2 linked regions of the Homo sapiens genome follow. The protein of the gene in region 1 purifies or fractionates together with the protein of each later gene. This does not show direct contact. Each region holds a gene or a part of one and is shown in the gene's direction. Other genes may lie near its edges.

What was found. The genes of interacting proteins can lie anywhere in the genome.
Region 2: the proteins of CAPN8 (region 1) and FNTB purify together in Homo sapiens (affinity purification with mass spectrometry, with the first as the bait; one large-scale study listed by BioGRID). This does not show direct contact.

What each region holds. Positions count from the first base shown.
Region 1 is NC_000001.11:223,620,034-223,625,109, reverse strand, and holds part of CAPN8 (calpain-8), read left to right. Parts: intron 1-2,209; coding exon 2,210-2,295; intron 2,296-4,843; coding exon 4,844-4,918; intron 4,919-5,076. UniProt on the Homo sapiens protein: Calcium-regulated non-lysosomal thiol-protease. Involved in membrane trafficking in the gastric surface mucus cells (pit cells) and may involve the membrane trafficking of mucus cells via interactions with coat protein.
Region 2 is NC_000014.9:65,059,057-65,063,888, forward strand, and holds the end of FNTB (protein farnesyltransferase subunit beta), read left to right. Parts: intron 1-2,124; coding exon 2,125-2,256; 3' UTR 2,257-3,594; downstream 3,595-4,832. Other genes in the region: CHURC1-FNTB protein, read left to right, coding at 2,125-2,256. UniProt on the Homo sapiens protein: Essential subunit of the farnesyltransferase complex. Catalyzes the transfer of a farnesyl moiety from farnesyl diphosphate to a cysteine at the fourth position from the C-terminus of several proteins having the C-terminal sequence Cys-aliphatic-aliphatic-X.

The sequences.
Region 1 (5,076 bases):
TTTATTTTTTATTTTTTGAGACGGAGTCTCGCTCTGTCGCCCAGGCTGGAGTGCAGTGATGCAATCTCGGCTCACTGCAAGCTCCGCCTCTCGGGTTCACGCCATTCTCCTGCCTCAGCCTCCTGAGTAGCTGGGACTACAGGCGCCCGCCACCACGCCCAGCTAATTTTTGTATTTTTAGTAGAGACGGGGTTTCACTGTGTCAGCCAGGATGGTCTCGATTTCCTGACCTCATGATCTGCCCGCCTCGACCTCCCAAAGTGCTGGGATTACAGGTGTGAGCCACCGCACCCGGCCTATTCATTATTTTTATTTCCTACATTGTGTCTTCTTTCAAAAGGGATTTAAGGTGGCTTACAATGATTTTATTTATTTATTTATTTATTTATTTATTTAGAGACAGGGTCTTGCTCCATTGCCCAGGTGGGACTGCAGTTGCATGATCTTGGCTCACTGCAGCCTCAACCTCCTGGGCTCAAGTGACCCTCCTGCTTCAGCCTCCCAAGTAGCTGGGACTACAGGCAAGTGCCATCATGCCTGGCTAATTATTAATTTTTTAAAAATTTTTGTAGAGACAGAGTCTGTCTGTGTTGCCCAGGCTGGTCTTGAACTCCTGGGTTCAAGCCATCCTCCTGCCTCGGCCTCCCAAAGTGCTGAAATTACAGGTGTGAGCCACCATACCCAGCTAGTGGTTTACCATTAAAAGAACAGACATGATAAAACCACACAACTAAGTAAAATACATCAATCCACGCTGAAGACAGTGCTATAATTGAGAAATTAATTTTGCTTTGGGCTTCCCAATGGCCAAGGCAGAAAGGGAAATGCAATGAATGTCCCACCTCTTGTTATTTATTTAACTGAAATAGGCCAGGCATAGTAGGGTGTGCCTGTAGTTCCAGCTACTCGGGAGGCTGAGGTGGGAGGATCGCTTGAGCCCGGGCAGGCGCTTGAGAGCCTGCAGTGATTGCACCACTTCACTCCTGCCTAGGTGGCAGAGAGAGGCCCTGTCTCAAAAATAAATAAATAAATAGAGTTAAATGAAACAGATGTTCTTTACATGTGTTTGTGTTTCATAAATATGCTTTTCTTTTTTCTTTTTTTTTTTTTTCAGGTGGAGTCTTGCTCTATCACCAGGCTGGAGTGCAGGGGCACGATCTCGGCTCACTGCAACCTCTGACTCCCTGGTTCAAGTGATTTTCCTGCCTCAGCCTCCCGAGTAGCTGGGATTACAGGCACGCGCCACCACGCCCAGCTAATTATTTTTTTTGTATTTTTAGTAGAGATGGGGTTTCACCATGTTGGCTAGGATGGTCTTGATCTCCTGACCTCATGATCTGCCCACCTCGGCCTCCCAAAGTGCTGGGATCACAGGCGTGAGCCACTGCGCCTGGCCCAAATATGCTCTTTAATGAAGTTAATCTCATAAATGGGAATTGAACATGTACATGCAAACATTGGGCTAGGTGAGTTGGGGGATACACAGGAAATGAAGACAATGAGGACCTAACAGCCTACACAGTTGGTGTGTGTATATGTGAATGCCAGTGTGTGTGCAGGGGCCCAAGGGGCTTATGCTTGAGTGTTCAATAAATAGGGGAAAGCAGTATATGTGGATTTAGGAGTATGGGCTTTGGAGACGGACTGCCTGAGTTCCTGGCCTGCGTTCACCACTTACTAACTAGATAATCTCGGATAATGTAACTTCTTTAAGTCTCAGATTTTTGAGCTATGAAATGAAGATAATTCTTTATCTTCTCAGGATTGTCGTGAGTGTTAAATGAGGCAATAAAGCACCTAAAATGCTTAGCACTACACCTCATCTGTAGTACCTGCTCGATAAATGTTAACTGCCGTGCTTTGGTGTTTGTTTGGAGGGCGTTTATTATCATTAGGTCTCATGTATTAAAAGCTCAGTCAATCTTAGTCAACTATAAAATCTAAATCTGAGTTAAAGCAGACATAAGCTTGTTTTTGGGCTAGACTCACTCTTCATTTATTCAAACAAATTATGAAAAATACCTCATTTATTCAAACAAATTATGAAAACACTTGGCCCAAGCCTGAAAAGATGCATTAAAGGAAAATAAAAGTGTGGTCCTTTAGGGACATTTGAAAAATTTAATGCAGATCCTGTCAGGTGCAGACATGCCTGCAAGGCAACAGGAGCATAGTAATTCAGTCGCTTTTCTGTGTATGGAATTTGCAGGTGAATTTCCAGGGCCATCCAGAGAAGCTGATCAGACTCAGGAATCCATGGGGTGAAGTGGAGTGGTCGGGAGCCTGGAGCGATGAGTAGGTTTTTTTCCCCCGCTTCTCCAGTCATCTCTCCCTCTGCGGAAGGGTGTCGTGTAAAACACACAACAATGAGATCGATGTCACAGTGAGTTCAGCAGCACGTCCTGTCTGCAGATCACACAGTGTGTTCAGAAAAGAGTATTAAATGGATCCAGGCTGGGAAAAGCAAAATAAAAACCACTGGGCTGTAGTCTTCGATTCTGGCTTTCTGCTTTGGCATTTGAAAGTTTGGCGGCTCTGTGGAATTTTGCTTTGCGCTGAAAGGTTTTTGTGTTTTTTACCTGACGCACCGTGCTGGTCCAAAGGTCAAATCGATCACTCACAGTCTGTTTCTTTCCACTCCACAAACACTGGACACTGACAAAGGCCAAACCCCTCAGCACCAAGAAGAAACAAGGATGCTGAGAAAATGAAATTTGACCCTAGGAGCCCCGGGCCCTGGCAGCAGTGATGAATGAGGCAGCGGCACTCGCTCCTACCCTAGGCACGTTTGATCACTGACTGGAGAGACTCCTCTTGGGCAGGCCTCTCTGCTGATGAGGGAAAGTCAGTCAGAGGTGGTGATGTCCCAGGACAGCTGGGCCCTGGAATCCATGTCCCCATCATGCAGGAGGGTGGAAAGCATGGGGTGGTTTCTGTCCAGTGAGCACAGCTGGCCTGGCAGAGGCAGGTTAGTGTGGGGGAGGAATTAGAATTAGCCAGTCTCAGCTGGGTACAGTGGCTCAGGCCTGTAATCCTAACACTTTGGGAGGCCTAGGCGGGTGGATCACTTGAGCTCAGGAGTTCGAGACCAGCCTGACCAACATGGTGAAACCCCGTCTCTACTAAAAGTACAAAAATTAGCTGGAAATCGCTTGAACCCAGGAGTTGGAGGTTGCAGTGAGCCGAGATTGGGCCACTGCATTCCAGCTTGGGCAACAGAGCAAGACTCCATTTAAAAAAAAAAAATAATTAGCCAGTCTCATGGACAAAGAACCACCAGAAATGAAAATGGTCACAATAATGCCCCCTCCCAATACGTCCTTAATCCTCAAGTGCTGTCGGTACTCTGTGATGCCACCAGGGCTTTCGAAGGGGACATCGCCAAGTTTAATCACAGCATCATGACTGCTCATGTCATGACCACGCAGAGGGGCAGTAACTCCCTTCAGGTTGTGTCACGAAGAAACACGTGTCTCTAGGGCCACACATGAGCCTCCTGTAGGAAGGATTTTTCATTCTACTGTGTAAGATTGAGCAAAACCCAAAACCTCAGTTCCGCCAACTTCCCTAAAAGGATGACAGGGCCACGTGAAATTGAAACCCTGAATGTGGGCCATTCTTACCAAAAGTCACTACCGAGCTGTCCAAAGGGCTTGTTTGACTTTCTCTCCTTTCCCTGAGCACCCGCTCCCTGGCAGGCGGGAGGTGGTGACTGTCAAGTCCTGGAGGCCCTACCAGCTGGAGATGCAACCTGGGATAATTATATATATCAGCTATTGGAGGAGGAGGGTGCCGAATCTCTAAGGCAACATCCCTAAGCTCAGCCCAGGGATTAGTGAGATTTTACTTAAAAAAAAAAAAAAAAAGTAAAAAAAAGAAATTGGAGCAGTAGGTCAGATCTGGAATTTTCCAACTCCTGCCCTAATCTTTGTTTATAACAAGCACATTCTGAGATTTGGTTTTAATCAAATTAATGTTTCAATGAATTGAAGAGGCTCTGGGAATTGTCGTGCTGACCCCCGGGGTCTTAAAGCCTGGCTTGGAGGAAGAGGCTGCGCTGGAGTGTGCCCCAGCTCTTATGCTGGGGAGAGAAGGTGCTTAGGTTTTGCTGAAGGTATTCAGGCAGGGATTTTTTTTTTTTTAAAGATGGATCTTGATACTGCTCTGTTACTTAGATGTCACATACATATTTCAGGAAAACCTAACTTCGTAAAGGTCAGGAAGCTGGAGATGGCATTCAAACAAAGTGCATAGATATTGCCCTTGAAAGGCCACCAGCAGGAGGTCTCACAGGGTGACGTTTCTTCTGGGAAATTGCCGTAAAACTGGGCTGGATGATCATTCTCGTGGGTGTAAGGAAGTGAACCATGTCCATGTCCCCAGAGCTGGTTAGACTCTGTCAGCATATTCACCCTAGACTGCTGGATAAGCCAGAGTGATAAGTGACTAATGGGTACTGGAGTGCCTGCCTTTCCAGTGACGAGAACTCATCCACGTTCTCTCCTGGGCCTCCCCATTCCTGCAAACAGGGGCCTGGGAGTCTTAATTAGAAATGTCAAATTTGCCCTAGAGAGTAAAAATTAGAGCATAATGTTTGAGTCATAATGTTCCTGGCACATGTCCAAGGCCATCGTGCTAGTGCCCATGGAGTCCGTGTCCTGGGTCTGTGTCCCTTCCCCAGACAGTGTGCTCGCGCCACACTGTCCATTCTGCCTTTCTGTCTGCCTGCAGTGCTTTTGGTATTTTGTTTCTGGCTCTTAGGGGGAAGCTTAGCTGCAGTAAACAGCTTGCCCTGCTTGTAGAACCTCTCAGGAGCGAGCATCTCTGCTTGTTTTCCCCTCAGTGCACCAGAGTGGAATCACATAGACCCCCGGCGGAAGGAAGAACTGGACAAGAAAGTTGAGGATGGAGAATTCTGGTGAGAGAGTTTTCTGCTGAAGCGCTGTCCCATTGGTGATGGGTCCATTTTCAGTTCTGATGTGAACTCTAGGTCTCTGGGTCTTCCAGGAAGGCGACATGGTTCCTGATCATGGTGAATTCATTCTTCTCCTTTTGTCCTGGTATAATTCCACCTCT
Region 2 (4,832 bases), on another chromosome or scaffold:
CTGTCACTCATGCTGGAGTACAGTGCTGTGATCATAGCTCACTGCAGCCTGGAACTCCTGGGCTCAAGCTATCCTCCTGCCTTAGCCTCCCAAGTAGCAGGGACTACAGGTGCACACCACCAGAACCTGCTAATTTTTAAATTTTTTGTAGAGACAGGGTTTTGCTATGTTGCCTAGTCTGGTCTTGAACTCTTGGCCTCAAGCTATCCTACCTCAGCCACCCAAAGTGCTGGGATTATAGGTGTGAGCCATTGTACCTGGCCCCCGCACTAGCCCCTTTTTTTTTTTCAGTCCTTAAAAGGTTTGTATAGATCAGAGATTATCTGTTTCTTTGTAGGTTTGATACTACTTGCCTGAGAAACCATCTAGGTCTAGTATCTTTTAAGGTATGTGGGGGTGGCAGAATAAGCAATTGTTGTTACTAATTTCTTCATGTAGGCCTTTAAAAATTCCTTAAGTCAATTTTGGCAGTTTTCCTGGTTTTTAAAAATTATTGTTTTATCTGAATTTTTGTATGTTTCAGCATGAGGTTGCTCCTAGTATTCTCTCAAAATTTTTAAAATCTCTCCTGCAGTTGTGTCCCCTTCTTCATTATCCCACAGTGGGAGAATCCTGAATATTGGCCTAGGATTATGCCGTGTCAAATCTAAAGTTTCTTTTGGGTTTCTGTGATGTACTAGAATAACATCTATTTAATTTAAATTTCATATTTAAATTTTGTTTATATATTTAAATATGATCTGACAGCCTTACTACATATTAGGGTTGTGGTCCTTTTTTCTTTTTTTTTTTTTTTTGAGACAGAGTCTCGCTGTTGCCCAGGTTAGAGTGCAGTGGCACAATCTTGGCTCACTGCAACCTCCGCCTCCCGGGTTCAAGCAATTCTCCTGCTTCAGCCTCCCAACTAGCTGGGATTACAGACACTCACCATCATGCTCGGCTAATTTTTGTATTTTTGTAGAGACGGGGTTTCACCATCTTGGCCAGGCTGGTCTTGAACTCCTGACCTCGGGTGATCCATCCACCTCGGCCTCCCAAAATGCTGGGATTACAGGCATGAGCCACCGCGTCCGGCCCCCTTTTTCTTGATTATAAATGTAAATACATGTTTATTGTTTTAATAATTGGGATACATAAAATATAAAAAAGAAAATGAAAAACAATCATATCACTATTAATATTTTGGTATGGGTACAATTTTTGCTATTTATATACATCACAGGTACAAATACACTTTTTAAAAAGTTTGAGACCAGGTGTGGTGGCTCACACCTGTAACCCCAGCACTTTGGGAGGCCGAGGCGGGTGGATCACCTGAGGTCAGGAGTTCGAGACCAGCCGGACCAACATGGTGAAACCCTGTCTCTACTAAAAATACAAAAATAATCCCAGCACTTTGGGAGGCCGAGGCGGGCGGATCACGAGGTCAGGAGATCGAGACCATCCCGGCTAAAACGGTGAAACCCCGTCTCTACTAAAAATACAAAAAATTAGCCGGGCGTAGTGGCGGGCGCCTGTAGTCCCAGCTACTTGGGAGGCTGAGGCAGGAGAATGGCGTGAACCCGGGAGGCGGAGCTTGCAGTGAGCCGAGATCCCGCCACTGCACTCCAGCCTGGGCGACAGAGCGAGAGACTCCGTCTCAAAAAAAAAAAAAAAAAATACAAAAATTACCCAGGCGTGGTGGCTCACACCTGTAATCCCAGCTACTCAGGAGGCTGAGGCAGGAGAATTGCTTGAACACAGGAGGCAGAGGTTGCAGTGAGCTAAGATCGTGTCAATGCACTCCAGCCTGGGCAACAGAGCAAGACTCTCTCAAAAAAAAAAAAAAAAAAAAAAAAACAGTTTGAGATAGTATTGTACATACTGTTTTCTCACATAATATGTTGTAAGTATTTGCCTGTATCGTTAAATATTTAAATGCGTGTTTATAATGGCTGTATATTAACCTGTGTCCCATGTACTAGATAGTTTTAGCAAATACACCATTTTTGAACCTTTGGGCTTTGTGTGTATCTCTGATTCCTTATACTAAATTCTTAGAAGTGCCTTTCATGGAGCAAAGGATGTGTTATGTTTTCAAGGACCACCGGGGTGATTAACTGGCACCTTTTCTTCTCTTTGCAGCAGCCCACTCACCCAGTGTACAACATTGGACCAGACAAGGTGATCCAGGCCACTACATACTTTCTACAGAAGCCAGTCCCAGGTTTTGAGGAGCTTAAGGATGAGACATCGGCAGAGCCTGCAACCGACTAGAGGACCTGGGTCCCGGCAGCTCTTTGCTCACCCATCTCCCCAGTCAGACAAGGTTTATACGTTTCAATACATACTGCATTCTGTGCTACACAAGCCTTAGCCTCAGTGGAGCTGTGGTTCTCTTGGTACTTTCTTGTCAAACAAAACCAATGGCTCTGGGTTTGGAGAACACAGTGGCTGGTTTTAAAAATTCTTTCCACACCTGTCAAACCAAAAATCTATCAGCCCACGTGGTGTGGTTGGTGAACAGTGCATGCCAGGAGGAAGCAGTCCCTCCTCACCAGCTCTCCAGCCAGGACGATCACACAGAGATGAATGGCATCTGAGTATTACGGCATCCAGAGCCACTGCTGACTCCCACTTGCACGCCACCATTCAGTCACCAGACTGGGTGCCCTCCGATGGGTGGAATAAGTCTGCTTCATGCCAAGGCTGGGCTTTGGGTCCCACCAAGATGAGTTCTCTGTAAGACTGTGGTGGAGTTGCACCAGGAGGTGCCTCTGCCTCTCGACTTGCACCCTGGTCATTTGTAAGGGAAAAGAGCTGGAGGTGGGGAGAGAAAGATCTCCTTCAGTTGGGAGTCCTTCCACTTCAACACTGGAGAACTGAGCCTTGCATCTCTCCAGGGTCCAAGGCCACGCTTGGTGCACAGGCAAGACTTGCTTCAGCCCCAGGTGTGGTGACTTAGACCTAGGAAACCAATTATGAGTGGAAAGTGACCCTCTAGTTCAACTGTGCCAGAGGAAACAGCCCTCCAGTGCCCACCTGCCTCACTCCTCCCTATCATGTACCGTGAAAACCCCCTCTGATGGCCTCAAGGCAGTGCCTGCAGGCCGAGGCCCTTCTGGGGGTTTCTATCTTTCTTCCACCAGACTCCAAGCCCACTCTCCTCCAAGACTGTGTTGTCTTTTCTCACCAAGAGTATTAACACTACTAAGTCTTTCACCTTAACTTATGACTCAGGATTTATTCACGTCCTGCCCACTCTAGGCTCACAGGAATAAAATCAAGTGCTAGACACACTGGCTGCTACTAAGGCACTAGCCTCTGTAGCTGGTGGTGGCAGCGTGGGGTGCCGCCCAGCGTGCTGGGTCCTGGCAGTGCCTCTGCTGTGCTGCACATTGAGCCCTTTCTCAGTCAGTGGAGTATCAAGTTGGGCCATCTGTCTACTGACCTGGCCTTCATGTAAGCAGCTGTGGGCTGCGGGCAGACAGGAGCTCAGAGATGCAGCATGAGGCGCTTAGAAAAACCTGGCCATTTGCTGCCTCTAATTCCCTTTTGCTTTGCCATATTGGGCTATGTATTACCTCCTTGAAATAATAAAAGAATAACATTTTCTATGATGTCTCTTATTTGTGATCTGTACCAAGAAAATGCCCAATGGTAGGAGCTACTAAAGGTTGCTCAGGGATCGTCAGTCTCCTGTGTGCAGGATTCCAGACTGTTCACATCGGTGGTGACAGAGGAATGACCGAGTTCCATCCTCACATGCCGTCTCCTCCAGTAGAGGAAGCCGTGGGCCTAACAGAGAGTGGGAAGAGATGTTTTCCAAGCTCCCTGGGGTAATTCGGTATGCTATGTCCCAGCCCTCCACACACTGCACTTCATGGTCTGTCTCCGACAGACAGCAAGGACTGGGCCTAGTAGCCCCAGAGCAGGCTGACTTAGCAAGGGTGGGTGGATGTCTGGCCAGAGGCAGGGGCTGTCACAGGGACAGGCTGGAACTCTGTGGCCACTTGGCTTTCCCTTCCTCTGGCGAGAGACCCTCTCCCATGGGAGGCCAAGAACATGGATGTCCTGTGGCCTGACCCTCTTGGAGGGGAGAGAAGATGGTGTCCTTAGAGGGCACCCAAATCCATGTAAATAAGCCAAATGCACATCCAGGAATGTAATTCCTGCCCCCTGTGCTATTTTTGCCCTGTTAACAAAGGTTTGCACTGCAAGGCAACATATTGAAATGCATCCTTTCCATCACTATAACAAAAGGCAAAATCCTCTCAGCACTCGGAGCCTCAAGGTATTGTGAGATTAATTGCAGTAATAATTAATGTGGTTAATAGAAGGGATTGCTTCAGTCTGAACTGGCTTTTTACCAAGAAGGAGGGATCTGAGTTGGGCCCCAAAGGGTAGGTAAAGTTAGTCTGGGTAGAGAAGAGAAAGGGTTATTTCAGGAGAGTTTACACTGGCATATCCATGAGACATCCTTTTCCAGAGGGTTTCCTGACAGCCCTCAAGGTGAGTCCTAGAGATTTGTCTATTCACTCATTTGAGATAGGATCTTGCTCAAATGCACCCAGGCTGGAGTGCAGTGGCACAATCATGGCTCACTGCAGCCTCGACCTCCTGGGCTCAGAAGATCTTCCTGCCTTAGCCTCCCAAGTAGCTAGGACCACAGGTGCACACCACCACAGCTAGCTAATTTTTGTATTTTTTATAGAAATGGGGTTTCACCACGTTGCCCAAGCTGGTCTCGAGCTCCTGGGCTCAAGCAATCTTCCTGCCTCAGCCTCCCAAAGTGCTGAGATTACGGGTGTGAGCCACCGCACCTTTGGAGAGATTTATTATGTGACTCCTTG